3 separate regions of the Homo sapiens genome follow, and all the other regions are reported to be linked to region 1. Evidence: microRNA targets listed by miRTarBase, many of them from high-throughput screens and not tested one by one. Region 1 holds a microRNA gene; each other region holds the end of a gene's coding sequence.

Evidence for each region. The annotated mature microRNA hsa-miR-4253 reads AGGGCAUGUCCAGGGGGU and lies in region 1 at 930-947, opposite strand. An mRNA with a match to its seed (bases 2 to 7 or 8) in the 3' UTR can be bound and repressed. Matches are read on the target gene's strand: a 7mer-m8 pairs with bases 2 to 8, a 7mer-A1 pairs with bases 2 to 7 and ends in A, and an 8mer does both.
Region 2: the mRNA of DNAJA2 is a reported target of hsa-miR-4253. Seed matches in the 3' UTR shown: 7mer-A1 at 1,491-1,497.
Region 3: the mRNA of SH3RF2 is a reported target of hsa-miR-4253. The part of its 3' UTR that is shown has no 7-base or 8-base seed match.

The regions. Positions count from the first base shown.
Region 1 is chr1:22,862,240-22,865,239 of GRCh38, forward strand. It overlaps MIR4253 (microRNA 4253), which reads right to left and starts at 987; the gene lies at 920-987. It overlaps EPHB2 (EPH receptor B2), which reads left to right. Exons shown (of 16, transcript NM_017449.5): 4 at 798-953; 5 at 2,638-2,973. RefSeq lists a silencer at 2,786-3,000.
Region 2 is chr16:46,954,411-46,957,761 of GRCh38, reverse strand. It overlaps DNAJA2 (DnaJ heat shock protein family (Hsp40) member A2), which reads left to right. Exons shown (of 9, transcript NM_005880.4): 9 at 542-2,400. The coding sequence ends at 733. Among named protein-coding and RNA genes, the nearest start is that of DNAJA2, 18 kb to the left of the region's middle.
Region 3 is chr5:146,062,118-146,065,468 of GRCh38, reverse strand. SH3RF2 (SH3 domain containing ring finger 2) reads right to left here. Exons shown (of 10, transcript NM_152550.4): 10 at 2,177-3,043. The coding sequence ends at 2,768. The region is part of intron 1 of LOC107986458 (a long non-coding RNA gene); the gene reads left to right. Among named protein-coding and RNA genes, the nearest start is that of PLAC8L1, 42 kb to the left of the region's middle.

The DNA of each region.
Region 1 (3,000 bases):
CATGGGAGAAGCCAAATGAGGGCCGAGTGCAAGCAGTGCCCTCCTTAGGCTGGCCCTGGTACTGCAGGCCCGCCTTTTATTAATATTTTAATAAATTGATCACATATTCATTGGGCACCTATACTGTGCAAGGCCTTGTGCCATGGGCCTTACGCTTAAGCAGAATACTCACAATGACCCTGCAGAGATGGGCCTTAGAATCCTAATTTTACAAATAAGAAAACTGAGTCTGAGTAGTTAAGCAGCTTGTCTGGGGCTGCACAGCTAGTAAAAGGCCTAGCCAGTACTCAAAGCCAGGTCGGTCTTATTCCAAAAGTAGTGTCCTCCTCTATTCTACCACATCACCTCTCTACACTGCCCTAGGACTTTTCTTCTGCCGTATAATCATCTTAATTGTCTGTAACCCAAGGATCTAGTTCTAAGAATCAGGGCCCAGCCAGACATTATTAAGCAAGACCAGGACCCATGCACACTGCCCCAGACATCTTCAGATGTGCCTCCTAACTAGGTCAGGATTGATTCTAGAGACCATGACACAGCCAAGCTGGGATAGGTGAGGGAAGATTGCTGGGAGCCCTAGACAGCTCACGGACAAGAAACTAGGGAGCCCTGACAGAATTAGAACTCCCACGTTGGGGCCTGGAGACTTCAAACCCTTCAAGAGATGAGATTTTCCAGCAGTGGTGCTGCATGGCCCCTCCGCGAGGCTGTGTGGCCCCTCCGTGAGGCTGCGTGGCTCGTGACCTCTCTGAGTCTTCATCCAGTTTCCTGGTGACTCTCCTTGTCTTCTCTCTCAGGTTGTCCATCTGGGACTTTCAAGGCCAACCAAGGGGATGAGGCCTGTACCCACTGTCCCATCAACAGCCGGACCACTTCTGAAGGGGCCACCAACTGTGTCTGCCGCAATGGCTACTACAGAGCAGACCTGGACCCCCTGGACATGCCCTGCACAAGTAAGTCCTAGGGCCCCTCAAGGGCGATGGCTGGCCGAGTCCCAGGTCTACCTGCAGAAAAGCTCAGAGTGAGGATTGGGTGCCGTCCGGTTACAGCCAGTCTTTCCCTGGTGGGAAGAGAAATGGAAAAGTGCTCAAGAAAGGGGCATCCTGGGGTGGCCATGCTCCCACCTTGCAGACACCACAGTGCTGGCATCTGGCTCCTTACCCCCTTCTGCTGAGTCACATGGAAGATAAAGTCAAGGTCTGGATTCACAAAGGGACAGGGGATGGGAGGCTTGGCAGGAGATGAAGCAACACAGGTAGTATATGTGGCAGAAAAGGCTGCCCAGTGTTCTAACCTGGCAGCAGCTGCCTGAATCACAGCCCAAGGTCCTCTAGGAAGGCACTGCCTGAGAACGCAGCGTCACAACCCCTGTATCTGTCAGGGATGGCATTCAGCTGTAAGTAACAGAGCTGAGCCCTATGGCTGAAACTGTACGGATTTATTCTCTCACCCAAAAGGAGCCCAAGGTAGACAGTCCTGGGACAGTATGGGCAATCCACGATGGCCTTTGGGGCCTGGCTCTTTCTGCCATTCAGAATGGCATAATCCTAGCTCACTGCAGCCTCAACCTCCTGGGCTCAGGTGCCCTCAGCCTTCTGCCCTCAGCCTCCTGAATACCTGGGATTACAGGCGTGCACCACCACACCCAGCTAATTTTTCTAATTTTTTGTAGAGACAGGGTCTCGCTATGTTGCCAAGGCTAGATTTGAACTCCCGGGCTCAAGGAATCTTCCCGCATCCTCCCAAAGTGCTGGATTACAGGCATGAGCCACCACGCCCAACCTAGTTTCTGTTCTTTTTTTTTTTTTTTTTTTTTTTTGAGATGGAGTTTCACTCTGTCGCCCAGGCTCTGGAATGCAATGGCATCATGATCTCAGCTCATGGCAACTTCCACCTCCCGGGTTCAAGTGGTTCTCCCACCTCAGCCTCCCGAGTAACTGGGATTACAGGCATCCGCCATCATGCCCGGCTAATTTTTTGTATTTTTAGTAGAGACGGGGTTTCCTATGTTGGCCAGGCTGGTCTTGAACTCCTGACCTCAGGTGATCCGCCTGCCTCGGCCTCCCAAAGTGCTGGGATTACAGGTGTTAGCCACTGTTGTTTCTGTTCTTAACGTCACTTCATAGTCCAGCATAGCTGCTGAAGTCCCAGCCATCACCCACATTTTAGGCAGCAGAAGCAGGGAAAGGACAAAGGGACACGCCATAGCTGTCTGTCTCTTTTTAAAGAAACAGCCCTAGTCAACAACTTCTGCTCTATATCAGTGGCAAGCACTTAAACACAGGAGGCTGGGAAATGCCATCTTTTAGCTGGACATATTGCCACCATGAATAAAGCTGGGCTGTTCTAAGGAAGAAGGAGAAAATAGATACTGGGCAGGTATAATTCCAAACGCAAAAATACTATCCTCAGTAACAAACACTGAGCAGTTTGTAAGCTGGGAGGAGAGAAAGGTTTGGGCAGATGTACAGCAGGCTAACTTGTATTCTAGAAACATTTCTCTGGTGGGGAGACAGGACAAAGAATTTAAGGAAGTCCTTTCAGAGGGGCTGAGCCAGAGCAGCGGGCACAGAGTGGTCACATGGGGAATAGTACCCCCTGAGCCCCCCACTGACCAACACCTCTCCCCCGCCCCAGCCATCCCCTCCGCGCCCCAGGCTGTGATTTCCAGTGTCAATGAGACCTCCCTCATGCTGGAGTGGACCCCTCCCCGCGACTCCGGAGGCCGAGAGGACCTCGTCTACAACATCATCTGCAAGAGCTGTGGCTCGGGCCGGGGTGCCTGCACCCGCTGCGGGGACAATGTACAGTACGCACCACGCCAGCTAGGCCTGACCGAGCCACGCATTTACATCAGTGACCTGCTGGCCCACACCCAGTACACCTTCGAGATCCAGGCTGTGAACGGCGTTACTGACCAGAGCCCCTTCTCGCCTCAGTTCGCCTCTGTGAACATCACCACCAACCAGGCAGGTAAGTGCTTCCGACGTGGGCCAGGGG
Region 2 (3,351 bases), not on the chromosome of region 1:
AAGTATTGGCAGATAATGACCTTTTTTTTGGTTCTTAAAGCAATAGATGGGTTGCACAAAAGATGTCTGCAGAATTTGGCCTGTGAGTGATGAGTTTGTGATCTTTTACTTAGAGTTCAAAGTCCAGTCCACATTCCTTTTTTTAACTTTTTTTTTTTTGAGATGGAGTCTTGCTCTGTCACCCAGGCTGGAGTGCAGTGGCACAATCTCAGCTTACTGCAACTTCCACCTCCCAGGTTCAAGCGATTCTCCTGCCTCAGCCTTCTGACTAGCTAGGATTACAGGTACCCACCACCATGCCTGGCTAATTTTTTGTATTTTTAGTAGAGACAAGGCTTCACCATGTTGTCCAGGCTGGTCTCATCTCCTGACCTCATTATCCGCCCGCCTCAGCCTTCCAAAGTGCTGGGTGGGATTATAAGCATGAACCACCACACCCAGCCCCTTTTTAAACTCTTAAACAGACACTGGATTCTATGTATCAAAAGGAAAGTTGATGAAAATATTACAACCAACCTGGTTTTTGTTTGTTTTAATAAAGGAACTAGAAGATCTTCTGCCATCTAGACCGGAAGTTCCTAACATAATTGGAGAAACAGAGGAGGTAGAGCTTCAGGAATTTGATAGCACTCGAGGCTCAGGAGGTGGTCAGAGGCGTGAAGCCTATAATGATAGCTCTGATGAAGAAAGCAGCAGCCATCATGGACCTGGAGTGCAGTGTGCCCATCAGTAAACTCTGCAAACAAATTGCACAGGTGGATTTTCTTTCCACATTTGCCTGATTTGTTCTCAGCAATCCAGCTGGAGTGTCTTATCAATCCAGATGAACTGAGGGACATCTGTTGGTCTATGTATAACTTTTAAAATTGGTATAGTATCTACAGAGTGTATAATTTAAACTAACCACAAAGCTTTACATCTTCATTTTGACTGTTCCATAGCAGAATAAAGCACTTGAAAGGAAACAAGACTCCCTTTCACACATGGATTATTATAAGTTTCAATCCTGGTATCTGTGCTTGATTTTTATCAGTTTTGTGTAGATTTTTATGTTTCATATTTTAAATTTAAATCCCACATTGTAAAGTTTGTACAATTTGTCCTGAAGCTTTGTGTTTGGCTGCACCTGCATAAGCTGCTACAAATAGAATAAAGAATTTCATAGCCTGTATCTATCATTTAGATGCATGGAAAAAAATGGGCTTTGCACACAATGGGTTTGGAGCTGACTGGGAACAATGGAAAAAATTACATTAGCTGTGGTTGTAAAGTTTTTTTGTTTTTGGTTTTGTTTTTTTTTTCTTTTTTCTTTTTTTTTTTTTTTACCATCTTGTGAAAGGTTTCTGAAACTCGATAATAAAAAGCGGTTGGTGTAAATTATTCTTTTGTGTCACATTTTTAGAAGGAAAAACATAAAAGAATGTATCCTTAGTACTGGTTCTTAAACAGCCCATAAAAACCCATTGGCCTGAAGCTTATATCTCAGGCCTATGCCCATCTTATAGTCTTGGAAGACAAAAGGCTGGTAGAGACAGTCTTCAGTGGCTTCAGTGATGCTCTGTAGAGGCCAGGGTGTCTTGAGTGCTGTAACTCCCAAGCACTGGGCTAGCCTGACTTCTGTATCTCCCTACCACCACCCCCTTAAAAAAATAAGGTAACAGCAAATCTATAGTAAAACCATGTCTGCATAGAACGTGTTCAAATCCTCTGTTTTCATTAAATGTAAAAGATGCTGTCTCCATTAAGTTGAATATTTGGAATTGGAGAAGCCATTGATTATTATTTTGAGTTTCTGTAATGTTTTATAGAAAAGTAAGATGCTTATTCAGAATTTAAGAATGAAGGCAACTGAAATATGCATTGTTGTAGTTATTTATATTTCAAACTAAAAATAAGCAAAAAAAAAAGGCTGGTTTGAGAAAAATCAGGTAAAATTGATGAAACGGATGTTGTGTTTCTCTTTCCATCATCTGGTTTTTACCATTTCACTCAGTAGGTATTTTTAGAACACACTTATTTGAGGAAAGAGACATCAGATGCACAATTTTACATTTATAAAGGAACAAATGGGGAAAACTGAAAACTAAAAATTTTAAATGTATTAAATGCCATCCCTGAGCCTAAATCTAGTATTTGTAGTTTATTTCTAGGTCTGCTAGAACCTGAAAACCTGAATGAAAAAAGGTGTGCTGACACTAATCAAGTCCTGTGAGGTTTAAATTATTGACCTATCCACTCTACCTCCATTGTACAAAAAATATTTTACAACAAGCCTGGGTAAGATTCAACAGCATAGTAGTTTTGTATCCAAGGTTACTTCCCCACAACCACTTTAAACATAAGAAATGTGGTGGCAATATAAAGTTTGTAGCCTTTCCAATAAAGGTTTATAAAACAGTTGTTCAGTGTAGTCTGTCTTTCATTTCTACCCAGGTGTTTTGACTGTAGGCAAGAAAACTACTGGAAGAGAGTTTCTGTTAAGGTGTGTTATTTCACTTGGTCTCCTTGCTCTAGTTTGTAGAGCACCTGTCGAGAGAACCAACCATACAGTGTCACCAGCACAGATAATTTTTTGTAACAGCTTTATTCCAGATATGATTTACATACCATAAAATTTACCACTTTAAAAAATTTGCCACAATTCAGTTGATTTCAGTATATTCAGCCATCTCCACTAATTTCAGAACATTTTCATCAAAGAAGAAACCCTCTATCCATTAAGTCACTTTCTGTTCCATTCTCTCCTCAACTCCTGGTGTAATCACTAATGGCTAATTCTGCTTCTAAATATTTGCCTATTTTGGACATGTTGTATAAATGAGATCAAAATATGTGGCCTTTAGTGATGCATTCATTTAGCTTAATGTTTTCAGGGTTTATCCTTGTCGGCAGCATGGATCAGCACAGTAACAGCAGGGACCTATTCTGAGAAGTGCATGGTTAGGCGGTTTCATCATGCAAACAGAGTGTACTTCCACAAACCTAGGTGGTGTAGCCGACTATACACCTATATGGTGTAGTGTATTGTTCCTAGACTACAAACCTGTACAGCTTGTTAGCATAGGCAGTTGTAACACAATGGTAAGTAAACAGTTTTCTGTTTACCATTTGGTACAGTATAAGTACCTTATATGAGAAAAAGGCCTGGCATGGTGGCTCACGCCTATAATCCCAACACTTTGGGAAGCCGAGGTGGGTGGATCACCTGAGGTCAGGAGTTCAAGACCAGCCTGGCCAACATGGCGAAGCCCTATCTCTACTAAAAACACGAAAATTTGCCGGGTGTGGTGGCATGTGCCTGTAATCCCAGCTACTCGGAGGCTGAGGCCAGAGAATCACTTGAACCCTGGA
Region 3 (3,351 bases), not on the chromosome of region 1:
GAGGGATAGACTAAATATTTGGTCGGCCAGTCATGCCATATCTGTGCCACTCTGAGTGTAGAGTAGACTGCTAAACATTGCTAAACTCATTGAGAGTGCTTTTTGGGTAAAGATGAGGTATAGGTACTTATATTTTGACAAATCACACAATGCCTCCCTGTCCTTGGGACTTTATCTCATTTCTCCATCTGGATTATTATATTTAGTTCAATGAGGCATGGATTTGGGCATGTTGATTTTGTGGACCTAATGGGTCAATATCTCATGTTTGTTTGGGTCCACAAACATCAGATATTGACCCAAAGTTTGTGAGATGTGGACCCAAACGTGATTGAGATAGCTAGAACAACGTGCTGTCATGTTGGCTCTACCAGCCCCAAAGGTCTGACACAATGGCAGTATTTTATGGGAGGAGTATGGTTTTGTTTTGTTTTATTAAGGTCTGGAAAAAGTCTGTGGACAATTCTGTTTGCCGAGTGTGTGAGTGGGTGTGTAAAAGATACATGTTTTGAATCCCAGGACTTTCAAGAACTATCTAGGGGAAAGGTCTAATTAGACATGCCCCTTCCTCCCTCCCTCCCTGCATCTTTTTCTTTTTCTTTCTCTTTCTTTCTTTCTTTCTTTCTTTCTTTCTTTCTTTCTTTCTTTCTTTCTTTCTTTCCTTCCTTCCTTCCTTCCTTCCTTCCTTCCTTTCCTTCCTTCCTTCCTTCCTTCCTTCCTTCCTTCCTTCCTTCCTTCCTTTCTTTCTTTCTTTCTTTCTTTCTTTCTTTCTTTCTTTCTTTCTTTCTTTCTTTCTTTCTTTCTCTTTCTCTCTCTCTCTTTCTTTCTCTCTCTCTCTCCTCTCTCTCTCTCCCTCTCTCTCTCTCTCTCTCTCTCTCTCTCCCCCTTCCTTCCTTCCCTCCTTCCTTTCTTTTTCTTTCTTTCTATGGCACCCAGCCTTAGTAGCAAATGTTATTTCTGCGTTAAAGTGCCCACATTGATGGGCATGCAATAAATGTTAAATCACAACAATTAAGTTTAATGAGAATTAATGGGTTGTCTCACAGCATTGCCTTGGCTTCCTGGGATGCCTCCTCTACCCTGATTACAAGGCTCTCCCTGGCTGGTCCTGCTCACGTCAGTTCCATCTTAGTGGGGTCATCTAATTTTGCCCCATTCTTCATCGCAGGCTCTGTCCTTCTTTCCTCACCCTGTCAGGGAATGTAAGGTTGCCCCACCCCTTGTCTCCTTTAGCCTCTTCCTGTGCTTTCCCTCAATCCTCTTTCACTCTTACTCTTATGCCTACTTTCTTTCCTCCACATTTTCTTTAACCCCTCCTCTTTCTCCTTCTCCTCTCCCCTGTTTTCTCCTCCAGCCTTCTTTGTCCTACCCTTTTTATAGCAGCTTTCCCCTAGGAAGCACTCCCACCCCAGCCTCGGGCTGCCATGTTCGCACTGGTGTTGTTGCCTTGTGAGTGAAATAGCTCATCTGCCCCAAGTGAGAAGAAAGCAGGGAAAGTCAGGAATATTGCAATGCAAACAATATATATCCAAATATAGATCCTAACCCCAACCCCATATAAAGTTGTTTTTTAGCATGTTGTGCTTTCTTTTTTTCTTTTTTCTTTTTTTAGACAGAATCTCACTCTGTCACCCAGGCTGGAGTGCAGTGGTGCAATCTTGGTTCACTGTAATCTCCGCCTCCCGGGTTCAAGCTATTTTCATGCCTCGGCCTCAAGAGTAGCTGGGATTACAGGTGTGCGCCATCATGCCTGGCTAATTTTTGTATTTTTAGTAGAGATGGGGTTTGATCATGTTGGCCAGGCTGGTCTCAAACTCCTGACCTCAAGTGGTCTGCCCACCTCGGCCTACCAAAGTGCCAGGATTATAGGCATGAGCCACTGCACCTGGCCCACGTTGTGCTTTCTTGAAGTCAGACTATATATCTAAACCCTAACCCCATATAAGATTGTTTGTAAGCACGCTGTGTTTTCTTGAAGTCAGACTGTAGAGCCAGGATGAATTAATTGTCCATAATGCCATACATGGCCCTATCCACAGCCACATGCTTTCTGCTTATCTATTGCATAGGATTATATGTGGGAAAATGGATCGAGAAGCTTAAAGTATGATAATCCTTTGATATTTGGTACTCAGTGATCTCTCTGACCTTCTTAAGTGGAGCATACTCAGGAAGCTGGCTCCTTCTAGTTTTATTGGGTTCTCAGAATGTTCAAAGTATCCACCTCACACCCCGCGCAGAAATCCTCCCTTTGCAGCCAGGATTATGACTTTACAGAGGGAAAAAGATATGGCAGCTACTAGTGGCCAGTGTACAGGCCCCAGAAGATGGCAGAAGTTGTTCTAATGCTTGTTGAGGATATTGTAAGGTCAAAGAAGCAACGCCAACAATCCCACCGTTGTCACACCCCTGCTGCAGCCCCCTTTAGGACACCATAGAAATTCTACACAGTAACACGGGGATGACAAGAGGCCACATACTCCATGCTGGGGCATAAAGTGGGCACGACAATTTTTCACTCCTTGGTCTGAGTAAGCGAGCTTTGTGGCATCAAATCATTATGTTTGTATGTTTGGAAGGCCACGCCATCTATCCTCCCACCCAGGGCAGGAATTTCTGCTCCCACTTTTGCTTTCCTGGAGGTGAAATAGGAAGAACAAGGACCCATGCTCAAGTCCCCAAAGAATGGCAGGATGCCCTCAGTGGAGGCAGACTGTATTTAAATGCAATTCACCTCTTTGGGGTCTAGGAAAAGCCACCCGTAGGTTCATTTGCTGGGAAACACGGTCTGCGTGCCTGAGGCAGTGGACACCAGGGTTGTGGCCTTGCCAAGAGCTGACTTTCTCCGGAGGTCTGTCTGCTGTCCGGAGTGGCAGCCACTTCGGTGGGCAAATAGGACGGTCATCTCTGGGCCCAAGGACGCTGCTTCAGGCTGGGACGCCTTGAGGGTGGCTGGCTGTTCAGGCTTTCCGGAGGTGGGATGGGAGGTGTAATGTTTGGTGGGAGGAGGGCTGTAATTCTGAAATCTCACGGTTTTGACTTGCTGCAAGAGAAAGGAGAGGAAATGGACACAGGTGAGGTGGGAGATGTCTATTTCCCCATGCTTGTCCCCACTTGAAATGTCTCATTTATGTGTTCATTCTGCAAATATCTGTGGCTACCATGAGTGTCAAGTGCTAAGATGGGGGAAGTACAAGATGCTGAGAATGCAGAGGAGCATCTAACTTCAGCTGGAAGTGGAGAAGCCAGGGAAGTCTTCCCAGAAGCTTTAAATTGAGAACCACAAAAGGATTAGGACTTATCTGGGAGAAATAGGGTAGGCCGCCGCCTATAAAAACAGCCTGAGGCAAG